Linked DNA regions of Homo sapiens. The protein of the gene in region 1 interacts with the protein of each later gene in a pairwise test. Each region holds a gene or a part of one and is shown in the gene's direction. Other genes may lie near its edges.

What was found.
Region 2: the proteins of APOD (region 1) and AQP9 interact in binary tests that used the Homo sapiens proteins (3 or more experiments, as listed by UniProt).
Region 3: the proteins of APOD (region 1) and FPR2 interact in binary tests that used the Homo sapiens proteins (3 or more experiments, as listed by UniProt).

Annotation. Positions count from the first base shown.
Region 1 is NC_000003.12:195,570,188-195,573,940, reverse strand, and holds part of APOD (apolipoprotein D precursor), read left to right. Parts: coding exon 1-91; intron 92-2,575; coding exon 2,576-2,664; intron 2,665-3,753. UniProt on the Homo sapiens protein: APOD occurs in the macromolecular complex with lecithin-cholesterol acyltransferase. It is probably involved in the transport and binding of bilin. Appears to be able to transport a variety of ligands in a number of different contexts.
Region 2 is NC_000015.10:58,136,089-58,139,841, forward strand, and holds the start of AQP9 (aquaporin-9), read left to right. Parts: upstream 1-2,292; 5' UTR 2,293-2,477; coding exon 2,478-2,588; intron 2,589-3,753. UniProt on the Homo sapiens protein: Aquaglyceroporins form homotetrameric transmembrane channels, with each monomer independently mediating glycerol and water transport across the plasma membrane along their osmotic gradient.
Region 3 is NC_000019.10:51,758,786-51,762,538, forward strand, and holds the start of FPR2 (N-formyl peptide receptor 2), read left to right. Parts: upstream 1-2,394; 5' UTR 2,395-2,445; intron 2,446-3,753. UniProt on the Homo sapiens protein: Low affinity receptor for N-formyl-methionyl peptides, which are powerful neutrophil chemotactic factors. Binding of FMLP to the receptor causes activation of neutrophils.

The DNA of each region.
Region 1 (3,753 bases):
TCCCAACAACCTTTGAGAATGGACGCTGCATCCAGGCCAACTACTCACTAATGGAAAACGGAAAGATCAAAGTGTTAAACCAGGAGTTGAGGTGAGTGGCTGTGGGCGTCCGGGGCCAGGCCTGCGGAGTGCTGATGCAGAGTGACTGGGTGTCCGGCAGCCTGGGTCAGGGAGGATGGGAACCTTGCTGGATCGGGACTGCCTGCTCCTAGCAGGAATTGAGAGGAAAGCGTTTGGCAGGCAAGGATGGCAAGGACTAGGATCCACTTATGCATTTCCATGACCACCTGCGGGGCACAAACTGACAGGGTTCCTGCACTCACTGCAAAATAGATACTCTGGTAGCAAAGAACATCAAGACCATCTCTTCTGACCTCCAGTCTGGGAGAGAAGCCGCTTCGACACCATCTGCTGACAGAAGCATCCAGCTTTGTTCAAACACTTCCAGGAACTGGGAGCTCATCGCCTTCCAGGACAGTTCATCCCATCTCTGGGCAGCTTAATCTATCAGAAAGCTCCTTTTCTTATTAAGCAAGAATCACATACACAACATTCACACTCTAGGTTATGTAAACAGGATATCCTTTAGAAGTGTACATTTCTATTACTGAGGGCTTCTAACACAATAATTAATCCAAAAAGCTACGCTTTGGAAAGCAACTATAAACTTAAAAAGAGCCCCAGGAAGAGCTCCTTCCTACCCACCTTCCACTCTTGAAAATACAAATGCAGTTTTTCCATGAACATGTTGTGACTTCATGGTCAGAGACTGGTGTCCTGAAAACCGTTCTAGAGCAAAATGCAATTGACGGTGAAAAGGGCAGAATCTGCTGGGAGGAGACTGGTTTGTTGCTAAGTTAACGTATGCAGATAGAAACAGACCATCTTCCCCAGCTGTCTGAGATCCAGATGAGAGAGGAGGGCACGGTCTCCAGCTTTACATGGTGATAAACAGAGAAAGTACTTGGGAACATCAGAGCACAGTTCCCAGAATCCCTGGCCTGTTGCTCATTGTCCTGTTTCTAGGACATCCGTCACCACTAACCATAGCATTAACCTACTGACTTTCTTTTTTTTTTTTAATTGTATTTTAGTAGAGACGGGGTTTCACTGTGTTGGCCAGGCTGGTCTTGATCTCCTGACCTTGTGATCCGCCCCCCCTTGGCCTCCCAAAGTGCTGGGATTACAGGCGTGAGCCACCACGCCCGGCCAACCTACTGACTTTCTAACACATACGACTGCTCTAATTTCAGTTGGCCTCCCTGCTCTGCCTTGAGGATTGATAAACAGACATCCTCTCCTCTGTTGGCTTCCTAGGAAGAGCACCCTGATGCCTTAGCACCCTCCCTTTGGTGCCTCCATCTCCACACCTTTCCCCTTCTCCCAAGTTCATGGGGCCATTGGGAGTCATCTAGAAAGCAGGCTCATTCAAAGAGGTGAAAGTATTGCATCCAATCTAAGCCCCCAGCTTTTAAGACACACCACTGCGTTATATGCCACTAAGAAAGGAATGACACTGCTAATTGTCAGGTGACATCAATTGTGAGATATGCATTTCTTCACATTTAATGTCTCTGAAATCTGGGCATACCTGAGAATCACTGAGATAAAGTAAATGTTTCTTCACTGCCTCCTTTTACTTGGCCTACATTGAAATCCCCCACACTCACTCAGAGGCTTGCTGAACTAGAGGGAGTCTCTGGACTCAGGCCCCTTGATGGGACAGGCGATGTCACATGATATCACTGAGGCCCAAAGAAGGGGAACGCTTTTATGTCTCCTTGTTTTGAATTATTTTCAGTGATCAAGTCCATCCTCATCTGTACCTTTGGCCCTTCTCGTTTTAAAAAGAAGTGAATCTGCCAGGCACGGCGGCTCACGCCTGTAATCCCAGCACTTTGGGAGGCTGAGGCAGGTAGATTGCCTGAGGTCAGGAGTTTGAGACCAGCCTGGCTAACATGGTGAAACCCCGTCTCTACTAAAGATACAAAAAATTAGCCAGGCGTGGTGGTGCATGCCTGTAATCTCAGCTCCTGGGGAGGCTGAGGGAGGAGAATTGCTTGAACCGGGGAGGCAGAGGTTGCAGTAAGCCGAGATCGCACCACTGCACTCCAGCCTGGGGGACAGAGCAAGACTCCATCTCCAAAAAAAAAAAAAAGTGAATCTTCTTTGTGTGTTGGGTTGTTTTGTTTGTTTTTCCATTCTCTTTTCTCCCTTTCTTTGGAGACTGGGAGCAGGAATTGGTCTTTCAGGCCATAGAAGATAGTCAGAGATAGTGTTGAAGTGCAAGGGCCTAACATACTGTCCCATCCTGGAGCTTGTCAATTGCGGCTTCTTATCACCCCGCTGCTCTCTTCCCCTGCTTGGCCTCAGAGACAGTCACAAGGGAAAGGCCAGGCCATGGAGCTAGGGTCTAGCCTGCCTTTGAGAGCCTCTCTTACCAGAAATCACGGTGTTGGCTGCCACGGTCCTTAGTGGCACAAATCTTGCCTTTCGTTGCTTATTGGCTTTCAATGAGTTGTTTTTCTTTTCTCTTTTCGTTTTTTGTATTTTTTCTTTTTTTAACTCACTGCAGAGCTGATGGAACTGTGAATCAAATCGAAGGTGAAGCCACCCCAGTTAACCTCACAGAGCCTGCCAAGCTGGAAGTTAAGTTTTCCTGGTGTAAGTATCCACTTTTCCCAGGAGGATTCAGGGACAGGAAATATGCAAACTGAAGGCTAGCGCCCCGGCTTGGAGAATTCCTGAGACACCTGAGTGTCATCTATAATCACTCAGCACATAATTATCTGTCAAACACTTACTACATGTCACGCACTAGGGTTGCCATGATGAGCCGGACAGAGCTGGCCTTGGTACTTATGGAGCTCACATCCCAGTGTGGATACTGACACGTGACCCCGCAATTTACTATAACTAGCTAGCGTTTCAACAGGTGAAACACAAGTAGGTGCACACCGGGTGTGGGCTGCAGAAGACACAACCCAGTCTTGTTTCCCAAAGGAAACTGGGGCCCGAAACATTAGCAGATATTAGCAGAACAACCTGCACGGCGCAGAAACTAGGAAGCAAGAGATGACAAGAGTGACGGCAAGTTTGAATCCTGCTTCTGCCACTTTCCAGTCACATTGTTGGGGATCCTGTGAGATACCTAATGACAGGCATTTGCCTCTGGGTTCTGAGCTAACTGAGGAAGGGACACAGGCAATAGAGAAAGCACCAAATATTAGTTTTATTTCCGACGAAGATACACTAGAGAGTTCAACCCAGAACTGTGAGGCTTTCTAACACGAAGAGTGCTTGAAAGCCCCTTTCCCACCTGCAGGGTAGACACTGAAGTCATCAGCTACAAAAGTTACTCCCTGCACTTCCTACTTCTCATCTCTGCCACTCCTCCACCCCACACCAGTCAAGTGCCTAGAGCGGGGAGGAGAGGAAGTTCTAATTTTATAGACCAAGAAAGGAATGCTGGGAGGAGAAAACAGTTCTTCTCACACTATGAATATGGACAACTAACTTCACATGTACAAGCCAGAAATAACTGCCCAGTGTCGTGAAAATAAACCAGATACACACGCTCTGTAAACTGTAAAGGGCTTTATACACAGTTTCTCTTGTTATTTTTATCAAGAAGGGAGCTAAAGTGCAGGTGGGCTGAGTGACGCAGGCCATCACTGAACTCATTAGAAGTAGAGTTGGGACCTAAACCTAGGTCTCCAAACTCTCAACTGAGTATTTTTCCCATAGGGATCA
Region 2 (3,753 bases), on another chromosome or scaffold:
AGCACCTTCCCCAGCAAGTTAGGAACTCAGGAACCAACTTTTCTCAGTCTCTTTTCCTCATCTCCCACATCTAATCCATGAAATTCTTCCAATTTTAAGATATAAAGAACTCTTGGATCCCTCCATTTCTCCACTGTCAAACTACCACCCAATTCTGGAATTCTGTAATACCCCCAAATGTATCTGCCTATGACCATTCCAAGCCCCCTCCAATCCCCTCTCCACCTCACAGCTCGGAGGATCTTTTCAAAACTCTAATCTGATCATGTCGTATTTCTGCTTAAACCACCTTAATGACTTACACTTTTAGCCCTAACTACCACTTACAAGGCCTAGTAAGGTCTGACCCTTGCCCACACCTCAGGGCTCATTTTGCATGCTGTACTCCTTCACTCTCTCTGGGGCCAACCACAGTAAATTTCTCTCATTCTTTGAGAGGCATCATGCTGTCCCCTACCCCTTACCCCCAAAGCCACCAAGGACTTTGTACATGCACTTTCTTCCCCACTTCATGTAGTTAATCCCATGCTTCTTTCTGATCTCAGTCCACACATGACTTCCTTGGAGAAGCCATCAGAGATCTCTCCAACAAAGTCAAATCCTTTTGCTATATTTGCTTATGGAAATATGGCCCCCATCTTTGCAGCATACATCTCAGTTGTGATTTTGTATTTATGTGTGTGGGATTATTTCACTTACATCTGTCTGCTTCACTAGACTCTAGGCTCTGTGAAGGACAAGAACCCTATGTGCTCTTGTTAAGTGCAGTGCTTGGCACATAATGAGTGTGCAGTAAATAGTTGTTAGATGAGTGAATGGGAAGACCAGAGAACGCTCTTGCATGTTATTAGCTGTAGTCACAGTAAGAAAGTCCTGTTTCTCTGGTCCATCCACTGGGACTTGGTAATGGTGTGGTCATAGGTAACTCTTCTAGACAATGGTATTTATGATAACTTCATCAGGAATTAAAGCCAAAGTGCTGAGGTTTTGTCCTGGTTCTGCAGTAGTGTGGCCTCAGGCAGGTTATAACTTTTTAAAGTCTAAATTCTAAATGTCACCTACAGATGAGAAGTCTCCTTCTGCCTTTGGCCTCTCACCAGCTGCTTTCTCCATGTCCTCTCCTCCCTCCCTTTTTGCAAAGCTAGGGGAGGGCCTGATGCAGAGCTGGCTTCCCTGTGGGAGGACTGGAAGGAACCACACAGCATGGATACTAATTCCATGAGTCCACATTGGTAATCAGAAACTAGGCCTGCCTTGCTATTTAGAAACTAATGCTATATTCTATTTCTTCAGATAAGCCAGTTTTGAAAAACAAGGCTTGAATATTTGGCAGGACAAGGAGCTACTCCCAAACACAGTTTCTTGCCAGCAAGGATGTCAATTTATCAAATTGAAAGGGTATAACCTAGGAGCCTCGGTTAGGTGTACTGGCTCCCTTTCTCGTTTGATTAGAATGACATACACGCTAATTGATCTCTTTCCGGCTCAGTCATCTCCATGCAGTAAAGAATTTCAAGCTGCTATTGTTTATTTCCTATGTATTATGTCTAAATATTTCATGGTGAATGAAGAAGAGTGACTATTTTCAAACTGGAATGCTTCTTCAGAAGAAACCCAAACTGGAATGTTTCTTCAGAAGAAACTTCAGAAGTCACCAAAAAGGTGACTCCTCCATCTTTCTGATTCTTGGATCCTAAAGTATCTTCAGCAAGTGAAGCCCAGTTTCATAACCGAAGAGGTGACTCCATCTGTCCTACAGACTTGCAGTGTGAAGCTTGCAATGGTTTCTCTGTATGTTAATTTCTCCATCTCTAGGATGGCCTATGTGGTTCTTACTAACCTCAGAGTGGTATCATGAAGCCACTGAAATGATACCAGAAGAAAACAAGAGTGATTAATCTTCTAGGATGATAAATCTATATTTTCTTCAAATTCTTCATTTTGCATAAAAACCTTTTTCAGAAAAGAATGTTAACATTGGATATATCTACACCTGATTTGACAGTTCCAAACTACACCCCAACCACCCACTTCTGAATGAGAAGAAAAAAAAATCAGAAGCCTGCAATTGTGTAACATGAAAATCTTTTCTGGACCAGGGCCCGTCACTGTGATTTGGCAACACAACTGGCACATCTCTTTTCTCATCTCTTGAAAAAAACCAACAGAGAAAAAAGTACCTTGAGAATAAAGGTAATGATTAATCTGTCAGGCACAAAAGGGATTGTTTTGGGGATTTCGGGTTCTAAGTCGCAGATTCAAACAAATAGCAGCGAACAGGGAATGACAGTTCCACCAGAAGACGATTAAGCCACAGCCTCTAATTGGAACGGCATTTGTACAGTCAGAGACTCTTACCAGACATCTCCAGGAATCTGTGAGCCATTGTCAAAACGTCCATTTTCATCTGGCTGTGAAAGTGAGGACCACAACAGGTAGGTATTGGTAGAAACAGGAGTCCTCAGAGAAGCCCCAAGATGCAGCCTGAGGGAGCAGAAAAGGGAAAAAGCTTCAAGCAGAGACTGGTCTTGAAGAGCAGCTTAGCGAAAGAAACCCTCTCTGAGTTCTTGGGCACGTTCATCTTGATTGTAAGTATTTCCTGATTTCCTACATTCAGACCCAATAATGCCTCCCTAGCTGCCAGGCTGGTAGTGGAGAGTTTTGTTTGGTTTGTTTTATTTAAGTTAATTGGGATCAGATTCATCTTTTCCAGGAAGAAACAAGTTACTAGAGGCTGTTTGACTATTTAGGGGTTGTGATATTAAGTTTTCAATTACCTATTGCATTTACCCACAAAAGTTGATGGGAATGGAAGAGAAGGAGTGAGTGAAGTGCCTTCTTTATTTCAGGTATTTACTTATACTCTAAAATGGCTTTGTGATTTAAAAGTCAGTCGTTAGTGTTTTCATTGATCAATTGATTTGTACCCTGCTTGCTTCCTCCAAGCATTGGGGTGACTCAGCCACCTGGAATAAGCATCAATAGTCAATAAATATAGTTGGCAAAAATATACATATGGATGGCAAGAAACATCTCAGTATGACAAGTACTTGACAAGTATTGTGCTGTCAGATCACTTGATTTTTAAGAAATTAAAAATTGCACTAGGTAGAAATAGTGTACCAGGCAATAGTCCAGCTTTAGTTTTGTGTCATTTTTGGTCTCTATTTAAAGCAAAGTAATCTCTAAATATCTTTGGAGATTTACAAGACAATTACAAGAACCTTCTAGATATAAACGAGGGACGACTTCTAAGAACCTCTTGAGGATTGCCCAGAGATTTACTCAGCTATTAACAAGAGACTGGAAAGTTTACTTAAGTGGTCTGGGCTTTCATTTTGCTGCACGTTCTAGCATTCTCTGTATCCTGAAGTTTTACCTGGAACCAGGCCATTTGTGAATAGAAATGTATTATCATGTGGCAACTATTGATTTCAACTGGTTTTTTTTATCCTGCTTAAGGATTTCCTACTCCAGGTATAAATAATTTCATTTTCCTTAAAGTTATAGAGAATAGCCCATAAACTCTGTGCATTAAAAGTTCTTTGCTTGGGGCAAATACATAATAATTTAGAAGAATAAGCTTGGAATGCATCAGCTAAGCCAAGAATGAGAAACAAATGTGAACTCAAAAAATTGAACTAGTGGAATGTGAAGAGAGAGTCATAAGTTTTCTGGTCTCTGAGAAACACATTAGACCAGATTCGTTACAGTATTTTCAGGGAGTTACGGACAATTTCTTGCACTCCTCAT
Region 3 (3,753 bases), on another chromosome or scaffold:
CAAAAAACTCTATCAAAAAGTGGGCAAAGGATATGAACAGACACTTCTCAAAAGAAGACATTTATGCAGCCAAAAGACACATGAAAAAATGCTCATCATCACTGGCCATCAGAGAAATGCAAATCAAAACCACAATGAGATACCATCTCACACCAGTTAGAATGGCAATCATTAAAAAGTCAGGAAAAAACAGGTGCTGGAAAGGGGAGAAATAGGAACACTTTTACACTGTTGGTGGGACTGTAAACTAGTTCAACCATTGTGGAAGTCAGTGTGGTGATTCCTCAGGGATCTAGAACTAGAAATACCATTTGACCCAGCCATCCCATTACTGGGTATATACCCAAAGGACTATAAATCATGCTGCTGTAAAGACACATGCACACGTATGTTTATTGCAGCACTATTCACAATAGCAAAGACTTGGAACCAACCCAAATGTCCAACAATGATAGACTGGATTAAGAAAATGTGGCACATATACACCATGGAATACTATGCAGCCATAAAAAATGATGAGTTCATGTCCTTTGTAGGGACATGGATGAAATTGGAAATCATCATTCTCAGTAAACTATCACAAGGACAAAAAACCAAACACCGCATGTTCTCACTCATAGATGGGAATTGAACAATGAGGAAACATGGACACAGGAAGGGGAACATCACACTCTGGGGACTGTTGTGGGGTGGGGGGAGGGGGGAGGGATAGCATTGGGAGATATACCTAATGCTAAATGACGAGTTAATGGGTGCAGCACACCAGCATGGCACATGTATACATATGTAACTAACCTGCACATTGTGCACATGTACCCTAAAACTTAAAGTATAATAATAAAAATATATATATATATAAGAAAGAAATTTTAAGAAGAAATTCTAAGTTCTTTTTACAGCATTCAAGACCAACCAAGAAATTGCCTCTGCCGCCCTCTACATACTTAATGCTTATTGCTGTCTGCCTTATCATCTATGCTCTGGTAAACAAAAGTAACCTGCTTTTTTGTGACCCCTTTCGTGGGTATTTTTACTCCCCTCTGACAAGAATGCATTATTTTTTCTCCTTTATCTGAGTCTTTAAGACTCAGCCTACATGTTCCCTCCTCCGGATATTGACTCTAGATCCGTGAATCTGAGTTAGTGGTTCCTTTTAGAGGACCTCACAAGGAGCCAGGCATCTGTCTATCACTACGTGCCCCCACCCTATTGTAACTAAGCACTGCATTCTCACCTCTCTATTCAGGTGGTCCGCAGAGCCCATGTCTGATTGATCTCTATGTCTCCAGCAGCCAGCAAGGAAGCACCTCTTTAGAGACCTGCACCTATACAATACCTACCACCTTTTATTTCTCGATATGTGAACTCCATTGAGAACAAACGAGTAAATGTAGGTAATGTGCCTTCTTCTTTTCTTTTCTTTTCTTTTTTTTTTTAGATGGAGTCTCGCTCTGTTGCCCAGGCTGGAGTTTAGTGGCACAATCTCGGCTCACTGTAACCTCCGCCTCCCAGGTTCAAGCGATTCTGCCGCCTCAGCCTACCAAGTAGTTGGGATTACAGGTGCCCACCACCACGCCCAGCTAATTTTTTTTGTATTTTTAGTAGAGGTGGGGTTTCATGATGTTGGCTAGGATGGTTTTCAACTCCTGACCTCAAGTGATCCACCCACCTCGGCCTCCCAAAGTGCTAGGATTACAGGTGTGAGCCACAGCGCCCAGCCAGTAATGTGCCTTCTTAAGTTCTGTGAGCCATTCTAACAAATTATCAGAACAGAGGAAGGGGTTATAAACATCCCCCCACCCCCGATTTATAGCCAGTCAGTCAGAAGTACAGGTGGCCACCTGGGACTTGGATTGGTGTCTGAAGTGAGGACAGTTTTGGGAGAGTGAGCCCTTTAACTTGTGGGATCTGACACTAACTCCAGGTAGACAGCGTCGGAGCTGAATTGAATTGTGAGATACCCAGTGGTGTCCCCAGAGAACTGGAGAATTGCTTGATATGGAAAAGACCCACACATTTGATGCCAGAAGTACTGCATAAGTCGAGAATTGAGTTTGACTTAATCATCATATTTGGGCTTGATTGCGTGGCTGAAACTCTTCCCACTTCAGTAATTGTTTCTTTCATTTTCATGAAACTCTGAAGAAGGAAGGGCTGGACATTCAGATTCCTTGACCCTTGACATTTGGAAGCATGAACTCCAGTCTCTCACAGAAGGCTAGAGGTGAAGGAACATTCAGACACATTGGTTTCTAAGAAGAGTCCGCTGACAACATACCCAAGGTGTCTTCTGAAAATTATAAGAAATCCTGAGTTTCTGTTAGGGGATTGGCTCCAGCTCCATTGTCCCTCCCCCATCATTCAGTAGTCTCCGCGAAAGCCCTTAGAGCCGGTGTTGCTCCACAGGAAGCCAAGAAGCACACAGGAAAAGGAGCTTAGCTGCTGGTAAGTTGGGGACTGACAATTTAAAATTTATCAATGGAACTCCTGCTCTCTGACAAACACCTCCTAAATTCTAGAGCAGTGCTGTAATGGAGCATCCACTTGCCACAGGTGGCTTTTGAGTGCCTATGTTTCTATCTTGATCTGAAATGTGCTTAAGTGTAAAATATACTTAGTGTAGTTTAATCATTAGTATGATCAAAATAATACAATTTATCTCGTTAATAACTTTCATTTTGGTAACGTGTTCCAATGATTTTTTTTATTTGCGGGGTTAAATGAAACATATTATTATAATTAATTTCTCCCAATGATTTTACTTTTTTAACATGGCTACTAGAAAGTTGTAAGTCACGTGTGTGGCTGGCATTTAGGGCTTGCATTACCCTGTCTCTACTAAAAATGCAAACAACAAACTAGCCAGGCGTAGTGGTGGGAGCCTGTAATCCCAGCTACTCAGGAGGCTGAGGCAGGAGAATCGCTTGAACCTAGGAGGCCGAGGTTGCAGTGAGCCGATATCGTGCCATTGCACTCCAGCCTGGGCAAGAAGAGTGAAACTCTAACTCAAAGATAAATAAACATGTGAAGGAGCCAAGTGTGAGGAGCTTAAGAGGAAGAGCATGGTAGGCAGAAGGAACAGAGAAGGCAGAAGCCCCGAGATGACAATGAGCTGCATGTTCAAGGAATCAGAGCCCGTTATGGGTGGAGCCCAGTGTGTCCCACGAGAGTGCAGAGATGAGGTCTGAGGAATGCACAGGGCAGGTCCAGGGGTACTTGAGGGAACTTAAGATAAGGATAAGTTAGAAGTTTGGAAGCCATTAGAAGGTGTTGAAAATAGCATCACCATTTTATTGGACCTTTTTTTTTTTTTTTTTTGAGACAGAATCTTGCTCTGTCGCCCAGGCTGAAGTGCAGTGGCGCAGTCTCGGCTCACTGCAAACTCTGCCTCTCAGGGTCAAGCGATTCTCCTGCCTCAGCCTCCCAAGTAGCTGGGATTACAGGCACCCGCCATCACGCCCAGCTAATTTTTGTGTTTTTTTAGTAGAGACGGGGTTTCATCATGTTGGGCAGGTTGGTCTTGAACTCCTGACCTCAGGTGATCCACCCACCTCAGCCTCCCAAAGTGCTGGGATTACAGGCATGAGCCACTCCCGGCCCTTATTGGACTTTTTTTTTTTTTTTGAGACAGAGTTTTGCTCTTGTTGCCCAGGCTGGAGTGCAATGGCACGATCTCAGCTCACTGCAACCTCCGCCTCCCTGGTTCAAGCGATTCTCCTGCGTCAGCCTCCCGAGCATCTGGAATTACAGGCA